4 separate regions of the Homo sapiens genome follow, and regions 2, 3 and 4 are each reported to be linked to region 1. The links are microRNA targets in miRTarBase. Many come from high-throughput screens and were not tested one by one. Region 1 holds a microRNA gene; each other region holds the end of a gene's coding sequence. Distances are between the middles of the regions.

What was found. The annotated mature microRNA hsa-miR-4769-3p reads UCUGCCAUCCUCCCUCCCCUAC and lies in region 1 at 3,640-3,661, shown strand. An mRNA with a match to its seed (bases 2 to 7 or 8) in the 3' UTR can be bound and repressed. Matches are read on the target gene's strand: a 7mer-m8 pairs with bases 2 to 8, a 7mer-A1 pairs with bases 2 to 7 and ends in A, and an 8mer does both.
Region 2: miRTarBase lists USP9X as a target of hsa-miR-4769-3p. Seed matches in the 3' UTR shown: 7mer-m8 at 2,335-2,341.
Region 3: miRTarBase lists EIF2AK2 as a target of hsa-miR-4769-3p. The part of its 3' UTR that is shown has no 7-base or 8-base seed match.
Region 4: the mRNA of TBL3 is a reported target of hsa-miR-4769-3p. Seed matches in the 3' UTR shown: 7mer-A1 at 2,596-2,602 and 7mer-m8 at 661-667.

The regions. Positions count from the first base shown.
Region 1 is chrX:47,583,837-47,588,320 of GRCh38, forward strand. MIR4769 (microRNA 4769) reads left to right here and starts at 3,593; the gene lies at 3,593-3,669. All of the region lies in intron 5 of SYN1 (synapsin I), which reads right to left. It overlaps TIMP1 (TIMP metallopeptidase inhibitor 1), which reads left to right. Exons shown (of 6, transcript NM_003254.3): 3 at 1,100-1,179; 4 at 1,369-1,495; 5 at 1,707-1,831; 6 at 2,685-2,953. The coding sequence ends at 2,855. RefSeq lists a silencer at 3,454-3,748.
Region 2 is chrX:41,232,243-41,235,242 of GRCh38, reverse strand. It overlaps USP9X (ubiquitin specific peptidase 9 X-linked), which reads right to left. Exons shown (of 45, transcript NM_001039591.3): 45 at 1-2,856. The coding sequence ends at 2,719. Among named protein-coding and RNA genes, the nearest start is that of LINC02601, 42 kb to the left of the region's middle.
Region 3 is chr2:37,103,699-37,108,182 of GRCh38, forward strand. EIF2AK2 (eukaryotic translation initiation factor 2 alpha kinase 2) reads right to left here. Exons shown (of 17, transcript NM_001135651.3): 16 at 3,776-3,829; 17 at 1-3,697. The coding sequence ends at 3,575. Among named protein-coding and RNA genes, the nearest start is that of GPATCH11, 21 kb to the left of the region's middle.
Region 4 is chr16:1,976,990-1,981,473 of GRCh38, reverse strand. TBL3 (transducin beta like 3) reads right to left here. Exons shown (of 22, transcript NM_006453.3): 15 at 4,190-4,420; 16 at 4,048-4,118; 17 at 3,804-3,960; 18 at 3,674-3,732; 19 at 3,413-3,516; 20 at 3,254-3,325; 21 at 3,003-3,161; 22 at 1-2,922. The coding sequence ends at 2,789. It overlaps NOXO1 (NADPH oxidase organizer 1), which reads left to right and starts at 5. Exons shown (of 8, transcript NM_172167.3): 1 at 5-360; 2 at 455-535; 3 at 743-818; 4 at 930-1,107; 5 at 1,293-1,477; 6 at 1,571-1,684; 7 at 1,932-2,049; 8 at 2,125-2,557. The coding sequence starts at 295. The coding sequence ends at 2,422. RefSeq lists enhancers at 29-88, 565-1,144, 1,145-1,722, 1,723-2,302, 2,303-2,882 and 1 more and silencers at 952-1,246, 2,039-2,158.

The DNA of each region.
Region 1 (4,484 bases):
CCCTGCCCCTTAGTACTCCTGATCTCCTGTTAAACAGAAAAATATTCAGTGATACTTGTTATAACACAGTAAGGAAGACCATATTCAGGACCATGGTGATGGGTATAGGAACCACTGCAATGGGATCTTGCAGTCGGTGGGAGAGATTGGGCTCAACACTGAATATAGCATGGGCCAGTGGGAATGTGTAGCTAAGGAGCAGTGTGAGGGTCTGTGGGTGGAAATTACTAAGAAGAAACATCAGGGGTAAGGGGGATTCTGGCTAAACCGACGTAACAGGATTCTTGCTGAAGGCAGGCCAAGGGGAATCAGACATCACCTGGGGGATGGTGGAAGATGAAGAACCCAGTCAGATAGCAAGGATGATCAGGTATTGAGGATGATCAGAGATTGAGGATGATCAGAGATTGAGGATGATCAGGTATTGAGGATGATCAGAGATTGAGGATGATCAGGTATTGAGGATGATCAGAGATTGAGGATGATCAGGTATTGAGGATGATCAGAGATTGAGGATGATCAGATATAGAATATAGGGGTTCTTGCTAAACTGACTTAGCAAGGCTCTCGGCTAAAACTGGATTTTACAAGGAAGTGCACAGATGGGCCTAGGAGGAGGTTCAGGAGCCTGAGTAAAGTTTGGTCAAGCAAAGAATCTTTGTCAGCCCCTTACCCAGGTCTGTAATTCCCCATTATACTTAATGTCTAACATTCCATATCCTTATTTTGTTTGTTCTTAGCCTGTCTCCTCCTGGCTAGAATGTGAACTCCACAAGGAAAGGGATTTCTGTGTTTTGTTCACTGTTGTGTCCCTAACACCCAGAACAATGTCTGGCACACAGTGGGCACTCCCAAATATTTGAGGAGTAAATGAACAAATCAATGTATGAAAATGGCTTAAGCAGTGCCCGGCAAAGAGAGACACTCAACATACAGATGAATCAATGAACAAATGTGTAAATCACTTTGTGTGCTGTCTGGCATCCAATAACCCCTATTTATGTATGCGCTTTGCTGGTATGATGATGATGATGATGATGATCTTATTTTTATTGGCTCATGCAGTCCATTTGACTCATATTTCCCTCCTCTCCTGCAGTCATCAGGGCCAAGTTCGTGGGGACACCAGAAGTCAACCAGACCACCTTATACCAGCGTTATGAGATCAAGATGACCAAGGTATCCCCTGCCCCCGCCTCTTTCCCAGCATTTTCTAACATCTTCCTCCTGGTCAAAACAGAAACTTCTGGCCACTGGTTGGTGCGAGAAAGTTGGCTGTGATCTTGGGATGCTATATGACTTCAGGGAAGAACCTGGAGTGGGAGGATTATGTCAGTAAAAGAGACACTTCCCCTCATCCATCAACAGATGTATAAAGGGTTCCAAGCCTTAGGGGATGCCGCTGACATCCGGTTCGTCTACACCCCCGCCATGGAGAGTGTCTGCGGATACTTCCACAGGTCCCACAACCGCAGCGAGGAGTTTCTCATTGCTGGTGAGGCACCGTCCCCGCGCCCTGTGCCACACCAACCAGTCCCTGGGGCGCGGCCTAGCAACCACGAGGGGGCGAGGCTCTGATGGGAATGGTCCCACTGGAAATGGGGACCACCCCAATTTCAGTCTATCAGAAGGCCGGGCCTTTGGCAGCTTGGCAGCTCAGCCAATCACAAGCTGCTTGTCGGTCCCCGCCCCGCCTTTCTCCTTAGGAAAACTGCAGGATGGACTCTTGCACATCACTACCTGCAGTTTTGTGGCTCCCTGGAACAGCCTGAGCTTAGCTCAGCGCCGGGGCTTCACCAAGACCTACACTGTTGGCTGTGAGGAATGCACAGTGAGTGCCTGGACCCTGACCTCCAACGGGAGATCCTTCCCGGGGCCATTCCCTAAATCGTGGGCTTGTTTCTTGCTCCCTCTGGCTATTCTGTGTCCCTGTGGCTGCTCCCCAACCCTAAGGGCTGTCCCTGATCTCTCTTGCTATTTCCCCAAGCCCGAGACTGCTCCCTTACAAATTCTGGCTGCTCCCTTTCCCTGTGTCCAATACCGTGTGATCACCTGTCCCTCCCTGGTCCCTCTAATTCTCCCTTGTGACTATTCTGTAATCCCACTCCCCGTTCCTGAGCCCCCGGGATTGTTTCTTGGTTCCCCAGAATGTTCTCCAAGAACCCAAAGTGCTGTTCCCTAATCCCACTGACCCTTCCTCAGCACATCTGCTTGTTGCTCTGCAGCTCTGACTATTCCAGACACCAGAGGGTGTTACACTGACCTCCTGGCTAGTCCAAGCCTGTTCCCTGATGGCTCCTGATGGCCTCTGAGCCCAGTGACTATCTTGAAGCCCCACTGGCTATTCCTGTGCTTAAACTCCTTAGCCGCCAACCGGGTGGGGCCCCTTACTACTGCCAGTTTTTCCCTGTCCTTTGGGACAATTCCACAGGCGACCTGCCTGACTGACCCCCAGGGCCTATTCCCCAGCCACCATTCCAGGACACTGATTTACTGGCTTACTGTTACCTTTCAGGACCCAGTGACATTTCCCTCAATGGGAGGGGCTGTCCTGGGGTATGTACTTAGGTGGGGTGAGAGCAAGTCTCCCCAGCGGCTCAGTGTTGAAAGCTGAGGAGAGGAAGTTCTGCTCCACGGGGGAGGCAGGGAGAAGCCCTCAGAGATGTTTCCCTCCTCCCTTCCAGGTGTTTCCCTGTTTATCCATCCCCTGCAAACTGCAGAGTGGCACTCATTGCTTGTGGACGGACCAGCTCCTCCAAGGCTCTGAAAAGGGCTTCCAGTCCCGTCACCTTGCCTGCCTGCCTCGGGAGCCAGGGCTGTGCACCTGGCAGTCCCTGCGGTCCCAGATAGCCTGAATCCTGCCCGGAGTGGAAGCTGAAGCCTGCACAGTGTCCACCCTGTTCCCACTCCCATCTTTCTTCCGGACAATGAAATAAAGAGTTACCACCCAGCAGACACTGTTTCTGTGTAGTGCCTGGGAACAAACCCATGTTGCTGATGACCTGGTGTGAGCACCCTGGGACCAGTGGGGATGAGGGATGCCAAATGTTGGGTTTTTATATTTTACTTAAATTCTGATGTACTGGTAGTAATTCTCAACATTGGCATTAGCACTGATGATCTGCAACAGCAGCAATGGTCACTGAACCTGCATTATCAACCGTAACCTCTGAATAATTTCTCCAGCCAATACTTTAAAACATTTTCCTATACTGATTCCTAATTGCTATTTGCCCAGGGCTTTCTAGTTATAAATTATCCCACAGCTGACAAATCACTGCCTTACTGGAAATTCCCCATTCACACATCTTGCCAGCTGACAGAGTCATTGACAAATGCCCTACCAATTGGCAAATGACTATCATTGCCTCAAGCACAGTCCTGATGTTGTCCAGTGAGGATGCCCCATCCAAACACGTGGGTGTTACTGTCCTCATCCTCAGGTTTTGTACCATGAGTCTGACTTGAGTGAAAGGGGACCCAGGGCACCCAGAGTCCCACAGTAACCCAGCTGGGGACTTGGGAAGAAGGGGTGGCCCTGGCTCCCCAGCCATGGCTGCAGGACATTCCTTGGAAGGGACTGTTTGGGGCAGAGGAGAGGTGGGATGGAGAGAAGGTATGAGCTAAAAATCCCCAAGCTCTGCCATCCTCCCTCCCCTACTTCTCCCCTCACTCCTCTGACCAACTTGGAAGGAAATACTGACAGCAATGAAATGCAGGTAGGGTTCAAAATTAAGACCAGCCAGATATGCTGGCCCATACCCTCCACACACCTCCCTCAACCCAACTGTCCCCTCACCCAAACTAGGGTCTCTAGACTCGACCCTCACCTTTATGAATCATCCTTTCTCTAGAAAAACTGAGTGAGAGAACCTCCAAATACTCCCCTCTGAGGCCTTCCTGCTTCCACAGCGGGGTCCAGTCCCTGGCTCCTGCCCCTCATACTCCAAAGGTCTTGACTCAAGTGAGGCCCTTGGGAACTAGAATTTCAGACTGGTGCAAACATTCAATGGAGCACCTGTGTCCTCCTGACCTGAACGTGCTTGAAAAGGGCCCCAATATATCTCCTTTGGTAAAGAAAAGGACCCCCAAATTCCCTCTCATCAGAGTACCCACTGCTCTTACCAGTAAGAACCCAGGTCTCCTCCAGGGCATTCTAGGTCACCAAGCACAGCCCCCTGGATCTTCTGTGGTCCTGTCCCAGAGCCTTTTACACTCCTGGGAGGTTACCCCACGGCCCAAATTATGTCCCGGATGGGAATGGGCAGATTTTGAACACACAGTACTCAGCCACTTAAGCAGGGAATGCGCATGCAGCAACAATTTCTACATCAACATCTACACCTTGGTTACGCCCTCGGAGGGTCTGAACCTTGTCCACCGAAGGGGCCAACCGCAGCCTTTGCTGATGGGCACAACTGTAAGGTAAGGGCCCGAGCCCTGGTTCATCCCTGGTGACCTTGTCAATGTTCCCTCAGCTGCCT
Region 2 (3,000 bases), 6.4 Mb from region 1:
TAATTTGCACAAACAAAAATAACTCCACTTTCCCTTGCTCCTAGTCACAACGAATACCACTCTTCCTCAAATGGAGACAAAAATGACTCACAAGCCCCTCACCTGGCACAAGGGGGCTTGTAACTTCAAAGCAACCAAGGTTGGGCTCTTCCTCCAAGCAGAAAAATTCACAGCCTTTTATATGTCAAGTTTTCTCTCAACTAGGAAGTCGTTAAAGTTTTTAAGTACATTACATATTTTGTTAAGGAGCAGCAGGAAATATATAAATCTCCTCTCAGATGGTGAGATGGTACACCTAACTCATCCAAATAAAGTTAACCTATTTCACTCGTTTAAAGAGCTTGGAATTGAGGAACTTTTAAATTAAAAAAACTATCAACTGGGGCCAGGCGCGGTGGCTCACACCTGCAATCCCAGCACTTTGGGAGGCCGAGGCGGCCAGATCACCTGAGGTCAGGAGTTCAAGACCAGCCTGGCCAACGTGGTGAAACCCTGTCTCTACAAAAATACAAAAATTAGCTGGGCGTGGTGGTGGGCACCTCTAATCCCAGCTACTCGGGAGGCTGAGGCGGAAGAATCGCTTGAACCCAGGAGGCGACGTTGCAGTGAGCCAAGATTGTGCCACTGCACTCCAGCCTGGGTGACAGAGCAAGACTCCATCTCAAAGAAGAAAACAACAAAAAAATAAAAACAAAACAAAAATCAGTTGGAATTGCAAACACCGTGTGTGACTTTCACTCAAAGTATCGGTGTCAAAATGTCCTACAGGAACACCTAGAAGCACAGGTTGACTATACAGTACTACAAATAAGATACCCAAAGCTTTATCTTAAATACCTGCCCCTTTTAATCACAAAATAATGCAATGCTCAATTTTGTTTCTGCTTTGTTCAGTTCCAAGTGTAGCCTTTTGACAAAACATTTCCCTATTAACTGAATTGTAAAAAATACAACCAAGCTTGTGCTCATTAAATATACATGTATATAAAAAACATACAAAAAGTACAAGATTATGTTAGGAAACTTTTACAGTGTCAACATCCTGATTTCTCAAAATCTTCAGTAGAGGGCCAAAGGTCAAATCTTTCTGTGCACAAAAACTTGATGTGACTGAAATCCTGAATCAGTGTCATGCCTAGGCATGCTATGCACAGAATGAATTTTAATATGCAGTCCTCTTTTAAAAAAAAAAAAAAAGGACAAAAAAAGTAACCAAAAAAAAAACCAAAAACACACCACAGGACAAAAAGTTCTTCTTAAATCAAATTCTATTTGTGAATTCAGCAAAATAATTTCTATAAAATAAAACAGCAAAATATTTAAATAGAATAGGGTGGGCTGTATCTGTTTGCAGGGGTATTTGGTTTTTAGACAGGTTCCAAAAAATTACACACATTCAAGTTACCAATTCTCTTTTAAATACAGTATGAACTGAGGATTTCCTTATTTTTAATCAAATGTTTATTCTGAAATTGTAATATCTCAATTATATCAACCAGTAGTTTCTTTTTTAATGAGACCCTGCTTTGAACGTTAAACGTTTTGGAATAATGGAAAAGGAGCTAGGACAATTCTTGCTTTCAAGTAAAATTGTGACTGAGCAGAAAATCAGCCAGCTATCTTGGTGCAGAGAGGTACTCCAAGTACCGTGGGGTTCTGATGACTTCCACGTCACTGGGATCCAACAGAAGGAAAGTTTTAGAAGATTCACCTAATAAACTCTACCAAAGAAACAAAACAAGCACACCAAATACAGTCTTATATTATGCTCCAGCATCTTGGCATAGCAAATTTTTGCATATTTGTTTTAAATCTTTAAAAATTCCCATTACTGATACGTAAGTGTTCTTTATTCCACCCAGAGATTGAACTGTCAAACATTATATATAAGGAACATATGTGCAACTGAAAATAGACTGTCACATTTCTCCCCTTGTTTTATATTTTAATATTCTAGGTGTAAGAAGTAAAAGCTCTGAGTAATACAGCTGTCACTTCTCGGACAACTGCTGTCATTATGGTAACTTTTTCCTCATTGGCTACACTAACTTGGTGTGAAGCCATGCTAAATGTTACAGCATAACTATAGCTTCAAAGTGATTAACCTAATATCAGAATAAAAAGGCAATGAAAAAAATCTAGAAACAGTGTTACATCACCAATTTTCCACATCAACCAAATAATTTAAAGGTTACCAGCCTTACATTGCTCATAGCAAAATTGACTCCAGTGGCAAAGAATTAACATGAAACTATTGGTGTGGCTGACATGGATGGGCTCTGTTTTGTTGCTGTTGGTTTTTTTTTTTTCTTTTTTGTAAAGGAGCTGATCCAACTGCCATGAGGCAGGCAACACTGGTTGCAGAGTGCAGTGGGTGTAACAAGAAAATTAACTTTTGTAGTTTGTGTAGATCTGTGAGTCTCATCAAGAAAAAAGTTTCTTGCTTAAGAATTAACAGTCAACATTAATATACTATATACACCTTTGCCATTTACACATTAGCATCAGGCCATTTATTACAAAACACTATACACTTTCCACTGCAGGCGGGTTATATATTGACAGCAAATTTCTGCAGATAAGACAGTGAATAAACTCTCCACTCCATGTTGATTAGGAATAGTTTTTCTAGTTTTAAATATTAGCCAGACACAGAAAAAGGTTGGACTGTAAGGCCTGGGTGCACAGTCTTGATGGAACCAGTTAATTATGTGCATTTCATTGATCCTTGGTTTGAGGTGGGGATACTTCTTCACTGCCTTCATAATTTTCTTGTGCTCGTTGGCCAGTTCTCTGAGGGTTGTTCATGTGATGTGCTGCTGGGCCTGTATATGGCTGTCCATGCACATGGTTATTCTGGGAAAGGAGAAAAGATCTGTATGTTAAAACTTTTCACATAGTAAAACAACTTCAAAATCATGGTCTGAAGTCTCTGGAAATGTATACTCTTATTCTTGGGACTTACTCTGTAAATACCCTTGGACTACTATAGTGCAAAAC
Region 3 (4,484 bases), not on the chromosome of region 1:
CATCTAGATTTACCAATTGTACAATGGCTAATATTTTGCCACATGTGTGCCCTCTTTCTCTCTCCATGTTGATTTTTGCTGAACATTGAAAGTTGCAGACATCATGACACACTTGGCCTCTAAATGTTTGTGCATGCATTGCCTAAAAAAACATTTTTGGCTGGGTGCAGTGACTCATGCCTGTAATCTCAACACTTTGGGAGGCCAAGGCAAGTGAATCACCTGAGGTCAGGAGTTCAAAACCAGCTGGGTCAACATGGTGAAATTCCGTCTCTACTAAAAATAGAAAAAATTAACCTGGAGTGGTGGCAGATACCTGTAATCCCAGCTACTCAGGAAGCAGAGGCAGGAGAATCACTTGAACCTGGGAGGCAGAGGTTGCAGTGAGCCGAGATCGTGCCACTGCACTCCAGCCTGGGCGACACAGTGAGACTCTGTCTCAAAACAAACAAACAAACAAAAACAAAATAAAACAAAACAAAAAGACATTTTCTACATATACTATTATCACACCTGAGAAAACAGTTATTTGGCATTGTTATCTAATATGCAGTCTATATTCAAATGTTCTCAATTGTCCCGAAGATATCTTTATAGCTGTTTGCTGGGTTGTTGCTTTCTTTTATTATTATTATTATTTAGATATGATCTCACTCTGTCACCCAGGCTGGAATGCAGTAACATGATCATGGCTCACTGCGGCCTTGACCTCCTAGGCTCAAGTGATCCTCCCACCTCACCCCCCCAAGTAGCTGGGACCACAGATGCACACTACCATGCCCAGCTAATTTTCTGATTTTTTGTAGAGATGAGAACTCACTGTGTTGCCCAGGCTAGTCTCAAAATCCTATGCTCAAGCCATCCTCCCCTTTTGACCTCCCAAAAATGCTGGGATAACAGGCATTAGCTACTGCGTCCAGCTTTTGTCTTTTTAAATATCCAGAATACAATAAAGATTCAAACATTGCATTTGGTCATTGTATCTTACAAGTCTCTCCCCTTTTTTTTTTTTTCATGACACTGACTTTTTGAGAAGCCCAAGTCAATCATCTTATAGAATGACTACATTCAGGATTTGTCTAATAATTTCCTCATGATTAAATTCCAGTTTAACACTTTGTGCAAGAAAACTAAATAGGTAAAATTCTTAAGTCACATCAGGAGGGGCATAATGTTAGGGTGTTCCACCTTGGGTGATGCTAAATTGAATCACTTGGTTATTGTGGTGACCATTGTAAAGGTACATTTTCCCCTGTATAATTGATACCTCTTCTGTAGGATTATATTTAAATCCTTGTAGAAGATCCTATTCCACAATAGCTTTTCATCCAATAGTTTTAGCATCTATTGATGAACGTTACGTGAAAAATCTATGAACTGCTCTTTATGAACACTTTTTAAAGCCTTTATAAAACTATTTTCTCTTACTGTATTTTCACTTTTTGCTTAACCTAAATTTGGCCCTTTTTAAAAATCCTAAAATCATATGGCAGTTTTAGAATGGTAGCTGGTTGCTGCTATAGTTTGCATGTTTGTCCCCCAAAATCTCATGTTGAAATTTGATCCCAGTGTTGGAGGTGGGGCCTGATGGGAGGTGTTTGGGTCATGGGGGAAGACCCCTCATGAATACATTAATGCCGTCCCTGGGGGTGGGGTGTGCTGGGGAGGAGAAGCAAGGAGTTCTCAATCTATTAGTTCCCTCAAGAGCCGGTTATTTAAAAAGAGCCTGGCACCTTCTCCCTCGCTCTCTTGCTTCCTCTCTTGCCATATGATCTCTGCACATCCGGCTCCCCTTCACCTTCCACCATGAGTGGAAGCAGCCGGGGAAGAAGCAGATGCTGGTGCCATGTTTCTTGTACAGCCTGCAGAACTGTAAGTCATATAAATCTCTTTTCCTTATAAATTATCCAGCTTCAAGTATCCATTTAAACCAATAAGAAACAAACTAAAACAATTGCCCTAAGTTGAAATTCACCCTCAGGGTCGTCTTCTAAGATGCAATTTAAATTATCTTCTCTACAGCAATTCAGGACAACAAACTAGCATACCCCATGTTCCTCAAATATATCTTCTCCAGAGCTCATGCCAGACCCCTTGTCCAGACTTCCTGGGTGGTCTCCTCTCTACTCATCTAACACCCTGGCATATAGTTGGAAGGCCCACTGGGCTGTCACTTCTAGCCCTGTGCTCAGCAGAAAGCCATCTTACCCTTCCCGATGGACTATTTTCTGTTTTTAGCTACTGCCTTACAGCACGGTTGTCTTTAAAGTGGTTGTTACAATAGATACAAAATGTATTTAAGATAAAAGGTATAACTATGCAGCAAACACTAGTGGACCTACCATCCAGCTTAAGGAAGTTACCATTACCTTTGAAAGTCCATTTCCCCAATCACATCATTCCCCTCCCTCAAAGATAACCACCATCCAGAATTTAATATTTCTCATTCCCTTCCTTCCCATTATTGTCTCATCACATTTGTTGGGTTTTTTATACAAAATGATTTAGTTTTGCATGCTCTGGAACTTTATATAAATGGAATTATTCTGCATATATTTTCTGAAAACCTGCTTTGTTCGCTTAACATTATGTTTCTGAGAGTTGTATTGTGTTACGTTATTACATTTAGCTGTACTTCAATTGTTTTCAATACTATATAGTACTCCTGTGTGTGAATATAATTTTTTTAATCCATTCTTCTTTTGATGTGCATTATGGTTGTTCCCTGTTCTTTTGGCTATTATAAACAGGGTTTTATGGACATTCTTGTAAGCACGTATGTAGGAATAGAATTGATAGCTATGTGGGTATACATGGATTCAACTTTACTAGATAATGCCAAATTGTTTTCCGAAGTGGTTGTACATCACTTTTTTTTTTTTTTTTAATGAGTACCATATTTCTCCAGCTGGCTTGTAAGCTATGTGAGGCAGAGAACGATCTTACATTTTTTTGGCCTAAAAGCGGTAGAAATTTAATAAATAGATATGAATTGATTGATTCATTAATAGTATAAAAAGAAAATTTGGGGGTGGTTTTTCCATCTTTAGAACAAAGAGATGAGGCTGGGCGCGGTGGCTCATCCCTGTAATCCCAGCACTTTGGGAGGCCGAGGCAGGTGGATTACTTGAGGTCAGGAGTTTGAGACCAGCCTGGCCAACATGGTGAAACCCTGTCTTTATTAAAAACACAAAAATTAGTTGGGTGGGTGGCACATGCCTGTAATCCAGCTACTCAGGAGGCTGAGGCAGGAGAATCACTTGAACCCAAGAGGCAGAAGTTGCAGTGAGCCAAGACTGTGTCATTGCACTCCAGCCTGGGCAACAGAGCGAGACTCTGTCTTTAAAAAAAAAAAAAGAATAAAGAGATGAGCCAGGAAAAAGTAAAATGTAAGAATGTTTTTGAAGCAAAAAGAAGAAAACCTTTCTGTTTCTGCAGAAAGATTAGTAAAAATAGTAAAAAATTAAAGGAAACATTAAAATAAAAGGTAAATATCTATTGATATTCCCTAGCAGATTTTAGATAATTTAAGGAAAACTGCATATCAGAAGCAGGATACTTTTTCAGAAGGGCTCTAACATGTGTGTCGTTCATTTTTCTCTGGGCTTTTCTTCCACACAGTCAAGGTCCTTAGTATTTCAGATGTGTTAGGTCGATCCTCAGGTTTCTTTGAGAGTAATTTCTGTAGAAGAGTTTTCTGCAATGACAGTGAGAGTCAATAGTAAGAAATAAAACATTGAAATAAATAAAATTCTGATGATTTTCAAGTGCTTACTTCTTTTTTATCAAATATATCTGAGATGATGCCATCCCGTAGGTCTGTGAAAAACTGGAAAAAAAAATGATAGGTGTATATTAGGAAATTATTTACTTGGGAGGAAAGACAGAACTAAAGGCTGAGGAATACCTGAAATGTAGGATATTTCCAGATTTTTTGGGAAAGTCTCTTTAGCCAAGAAGCAAGCAGGATTCCCTCTCTCCTACACTACCCCCAATCTAATAACCATCCTTGCATTACGACATGAAGTGTTAAGTGCATCATCTTTACAATCTCCCTTCATGCATTTTGGAACCCTAAGTGATAGGTACTTCTAACTGTTTTACAGAGGATAAGGTTATTGACTCCAGGAAAGTTCCCTTTCCTGAGCTTAAGAGTAGGATATCCAGCTGGGTGCAGTGGCTCACACCTGTAATCCCAACACTCTGGGAGGCCGAGGCGGGTGGATTGCCAGAGGTCAGGAGTTCGAGACCAGCCTGACCAACATGGTGAAACCCCATCTCTACTAAATACAAAAAAATTAACCAGGCATGGTGGTGCACGCCTGTAGTCCCAGTTACTTGGGAGGCTGAGGCAGGAGAATTGCTTGAACCTGGGAGGCAGAAGTTACAGTGAGCCAAGATCGCGCCATTGCACTCCAGCCTGGGCAATAAAAGTGAAACTCTATCTCAAAAAAAAAAAAAAAAAGAGTAGGATATCCACTTGC
Region 4 (4,484 bases), not on the chromosome of region 1:
CTTCAGTCTTGCACGCCTCCAGGGCTGGAAAGCTCATTCTTCTTCTTCCTCCCAGCAGCTCTGCCTGGAAGTCCCCCAATCCCTGTGCTCCTGCCCCCAGATCGTGGGCTTGGGGGACAGCAAGAAAGCTGCAAAGGACTCAGCTGGGGCGGCTCCACAAGGACCCCACAGGCTTGAGGTGTTGCCAGGATTCTATCCCAGGGGGTTTTCTGGGTCCCCCAGAGCCCTCTCAAGCACGGGGAGGCAGAAGGGTCCTCGCCCATTTCAGGAATCTGCAGCCTGGAAGCCACAGCCATGGCAGGCCCCCGATACCCAGTTTCAGTGCAAGGGGCAGCCCTGGTGCAGATCAAGAGGCTCCAAGTAAGACCTGGCTGGGTCCTTAGTGGCCCCAAGGGATAGGAAGGGGGTGCCTGGACCAGCACCTCCACGGCACTCCCAACTTTTTGTCCCCCAGACGTTTGCCTTCTCTGTGCGCTGGTCAGACGGCAGCGACACCTTCGTGCGCAGGAGTTGGGACGAATTCAGGCAGCTCAAGGTGAGTGACCCTGGGCCACCCTGATGCCGCGGTGGCGGCTTCCCCACGCGGCTGCCTCCCACTGGACTGCCTCCCATCAGTGACTCCCACTGGAGGCCCTTCGTCCCTGCTGAAGCTCCCAGCCCCTGCCATCCGGGTGAGGGACCCCGCCCTCTCAAGGGTGCACAGTGGGCTCTGGAAGACCAATGCCCTGGTTCCCGCCCTCAGAAGACCCTCAAGGAGACCTTCCCGGTGGAGGCGGGCCTGCTGCGGAGATCTGACCGCGTTCTCCCAAAGCTTCTCGGTCAGGCCAGCCTGGGTACGGGAGCGGGGAAGGCGGTGGCTTGCCTGGGGGCGCCAGGGACCAGTGAAGCCCAAAGCGGCGTATCACAGTACGTTTTTGTGGTGCCTTAAGATGCACCACTGTTGGGACGCGTGGGGCGCACGAGCCGCGGCCTGGCGCGCCTGCAGCTGTTGGAAACCTATTCTCGGAGGCTGCTGGCGACTGCAGAGCGCGTGGCACGGAGCCCGACGATCACTGGCTTCTTCGCACCGCAACCCCTGGACCTGGAGCCCGCGCTGCCACCCGGCAGGTGCCTGACTCGCCCCAAACTCCCAGCATGCAGCGGCGTTTGGAGCTGGGAGAGGTCCAGGGTGGGGGGGAACAGCCAGCGAATAGGGGCAGAGAGTGGGAGGCTGGCGGTCTTGCCGGGGTGGCGCCCCCAGTTTCACCCTCCCCATCCGCCTACCTCTCACTCGTACGGGCTGCCCTTCCCAGCCGGGTGATCCTGCCCACCCCAGAGGAGCAGCCTCTTTCTCGCGCTGCGGGCCGCCTCTCCATCCACAGTCTGGAGGCTCAGAGCCTGCGCTGCCTGCAGCCCTTCTGTACCCAGGACACGCGGGATAGGCCTTTTCAGGCGCAGGCCCAGGAGAGCCTGGACGTGCTGCTGCGGCACCCCTCAGGTAGGGCCCCCCAAGAACCCAGGGATTTGCTCCTCTGCTCCTGGACCCGAGGGAGCCTCGAGATTTGAGTCCCTGCCCGCTTCTTGCGCACAGGCTGGTGGCTGGTGGAGAACGAAGACCGGCAGACCGCCTGGTTTCCAGCGCCCTACCTGGAGGAGGCGGCCCCGGGCCAAGGCCGGGAGGGAGGCCCGTCCCTAGGGAGCAGCGGTATGCGCCTAACCCCACCCCTCACGCCACCACTGCGGCTTGACCGTGTGGCAAGACTGGGCCAGAAGCACCGCGGGCAGGGCGGGCCAGGAGCCCGTGCTTGGTCTCCGCACCTAGAGGAAGCCCCGAACCGGTCTTAGAGCGGCCCCGCCGTCAGCAGACTCAAGCAAGGAGAATGTGGAGAAGGGTGCGGGCGGGCCTCGTCCTCTGTGGCCCCGCGGTGACTCCAAACACCCACTCCCACCAGGTCCCCAGTTCTGTGCTTCCCGCGCCTACGAGAGCAGCCGCGCAGATGAGCTGTCCGTGCCCGCGGGGGCGCGCGTGCGCGTGTTGGAAACGTCAGACCGCGGCTGGTGGCTATGCAGGTACGCGGGAGCGGGCGTGGGCAGGGCAGGCTAGCCGAGGCGGGCGGGGCCCTAACCACACCCCGCCCCTCGCAGGTACGGCGACCGGGCGGGCCTACTCCCCGCGGTGCTGCTGCGGCCGGAAGGGCTGGGCGCTCTCCTGAGCGGGACGGGGTTCCGTGGAGGAGACGACCCGGCGGGTGAGGCCCGGGGCTTCCCTGAACCCTCCCAGGCCACCGCCCCTCCCCCCACCGTGCCCACCCGACCTTCGCCGGGCGCCATCCAGAGCCGCTGCTGCACCGTCACACGCAGGGCCCTGGAGCGGCGCCCACGGCGCCAGGGCCGCCCTCGAGGGTGCGTGGACTCTGTGCCGCACCCCACGACGGAGCAGTGAGCGCGAGGATCCCGATGAGGGGATGGACCGCGCCATCCCAGGGCTGGGGAGGAGCGGGGAGGGCGGATCTCCCTGGCCAGCAGGGATGGGAGGGGGCCATTTGCTGTTCCTCTGAGTAAAGCTTGTTCTGCATGACCCCCACCGTCTAAGCGTGCGGAGCCGCGGGCTGGATCTCTGCCAGGCCAGGGTGCGGGATGGGCGTGGCAGGGCCGAGACCATCAGCTCCAGTGCCCTTCTGGCTGGCTAGGTAGGGTGTTGGCCAGGGTGGGGGGCTGGACTGCAGTCCAGAGAGACAGAGCCGGCCAGGAGAGCGGCCTTTATGGGTTTTCCAGGGGTTCAGGATGGACTGGAGAGAGGCCGGACCGGCTAGGGCAGTGCGCCTTTATGGGTTTCCCAGGGGGTGGGGGCGGCGGCCGGCACAGGGAGCTTCATGTTGTGCCACAGGAAGTCCAAGAAAGCGGCGGCCTGGAGGGTCCTGCTGAGCCGCTGAAAGTGCCGCTCTGGGGTTGGACAGAGGGAGGTCAGGGGGGTGGTCCACACGCCCACCAGGATCCCCCAACCCCAGGCTGTGCCCACATACCAGTGTAGGGCAGCAGGGCCTCAAGCGCTGCCCGCACGCCTTCGTAGGCCAGCAGCTCCTCGGGGGCCTCTCGCCTCAAGAGCACACCCAGCACGGCCTGGGCCTCGTGGCAGTGCCGCGAGTTGGTGTTCCACGTGACGCAGAAGCGCAGCAGGGCCTCTGTGGGCAACAGGACCCTCATCGTCTTGCCCAGCCAATCTGCCATGACTGGCCCTTGCCCACCGGGCCACCCACCCTGACTGGCCGCCAACCTTTCTGGTCGCGCCGCAGTCGGAGCATGGTGGCTTCCAGCTTCTCGCAGGCCTCAGGGTCCCTCCGGATGGCTGTGGGAGAAGGGAAGGCTGAGCTGGGGAAAGCAGAGCCCAGTGGTCCGAAGACCCAGCCCCTCGCCCCCCGGGGTGGGCACTGACCCTGGATGACAGTCAGCACGGTGTGGGGCCGATCCAGGGAGATGGCCAGGCCCAGCGCCCGCAGGTACCGCTTCTCATGCAGCAGGTTGTCCAGCTCTTGCTGCCTGTGGGGAGGGGAGGAGAGGCCACTGAGGGCCGCTGGCTGGGGCTGCAGGCAGAGCCATCGGAGTCAGCAGGCAGGGAGCCTGGCACTCAGCCTCGTTTTCCCTACAGCACAGAGCAGGGCTGATGCGGGGAGGGGCGCCACTGCCCTGGCCTTACCTGACCACCTGCTCCTCTTGCCTGGCCTGCTCCTCTGCCTGCTCCGCCTCGGTCACATCCTGGGGTTAGACTAGGGTCAGATGGGGCCTCCACTCCACCCCGACTCTTCCCTGCCCTTGGGGCCCACAACCTTCCAGAGGATGACTCGGGAGTCACTGGCCCCAGTGAGGGCGTGGTCGTCCAGCCGGCTGCAGTGCAGCCCCCAGACCTTGTCCTCGTGGGCATCCAGCGTCCGCACACACTCGTTGTTCTTGATGGTCCAGAGCTTCACGAGGCCATCCGAACCGCTGGGTTTGGGGTGGGGAGAGGCTCAGCGTCAGGCAGGTCCCCCCGCCACCCCCCACTCCATCGCTGCCCCACCCCAGCCCACTCACCTGGACAGCAGCTGCGTGCCACGGCTCACAAAGGCCACCTTCAGCACAGAAGCATCGTGCCCCTCAAATGTCTGCAAGGTGGGGGGTAGGGCATGAGATGTCACCAGGGCGGGAAGTGGGGAGGGTCTGGAGCGCCACTTACCTTGAGACAGCTGAAGTCCTGGAGTGCCCAGAGCTTGATGGTGCCATCAGCTGAGGCCGTGGCCAGCACCTGGTCCATGGGAGAGAACTGGACGCACCAGAGGCCACGCCGGTGGCCTGAGAAGACACCCAGCAGCTGGCACTGTGGCAGGGCCCAGAGCTTGGCCGTGCGGTCCTGTGAGCCTGTGGCCAGCAGCTTGTCGTTGGGGGCAATAGCCACGCTGTTGATGTCCTGGCAATGGGAGAAGGTGGTGGCTCAGCAATCCCCCATCTTCCCCCAGCAAGGGCTTGGCCAC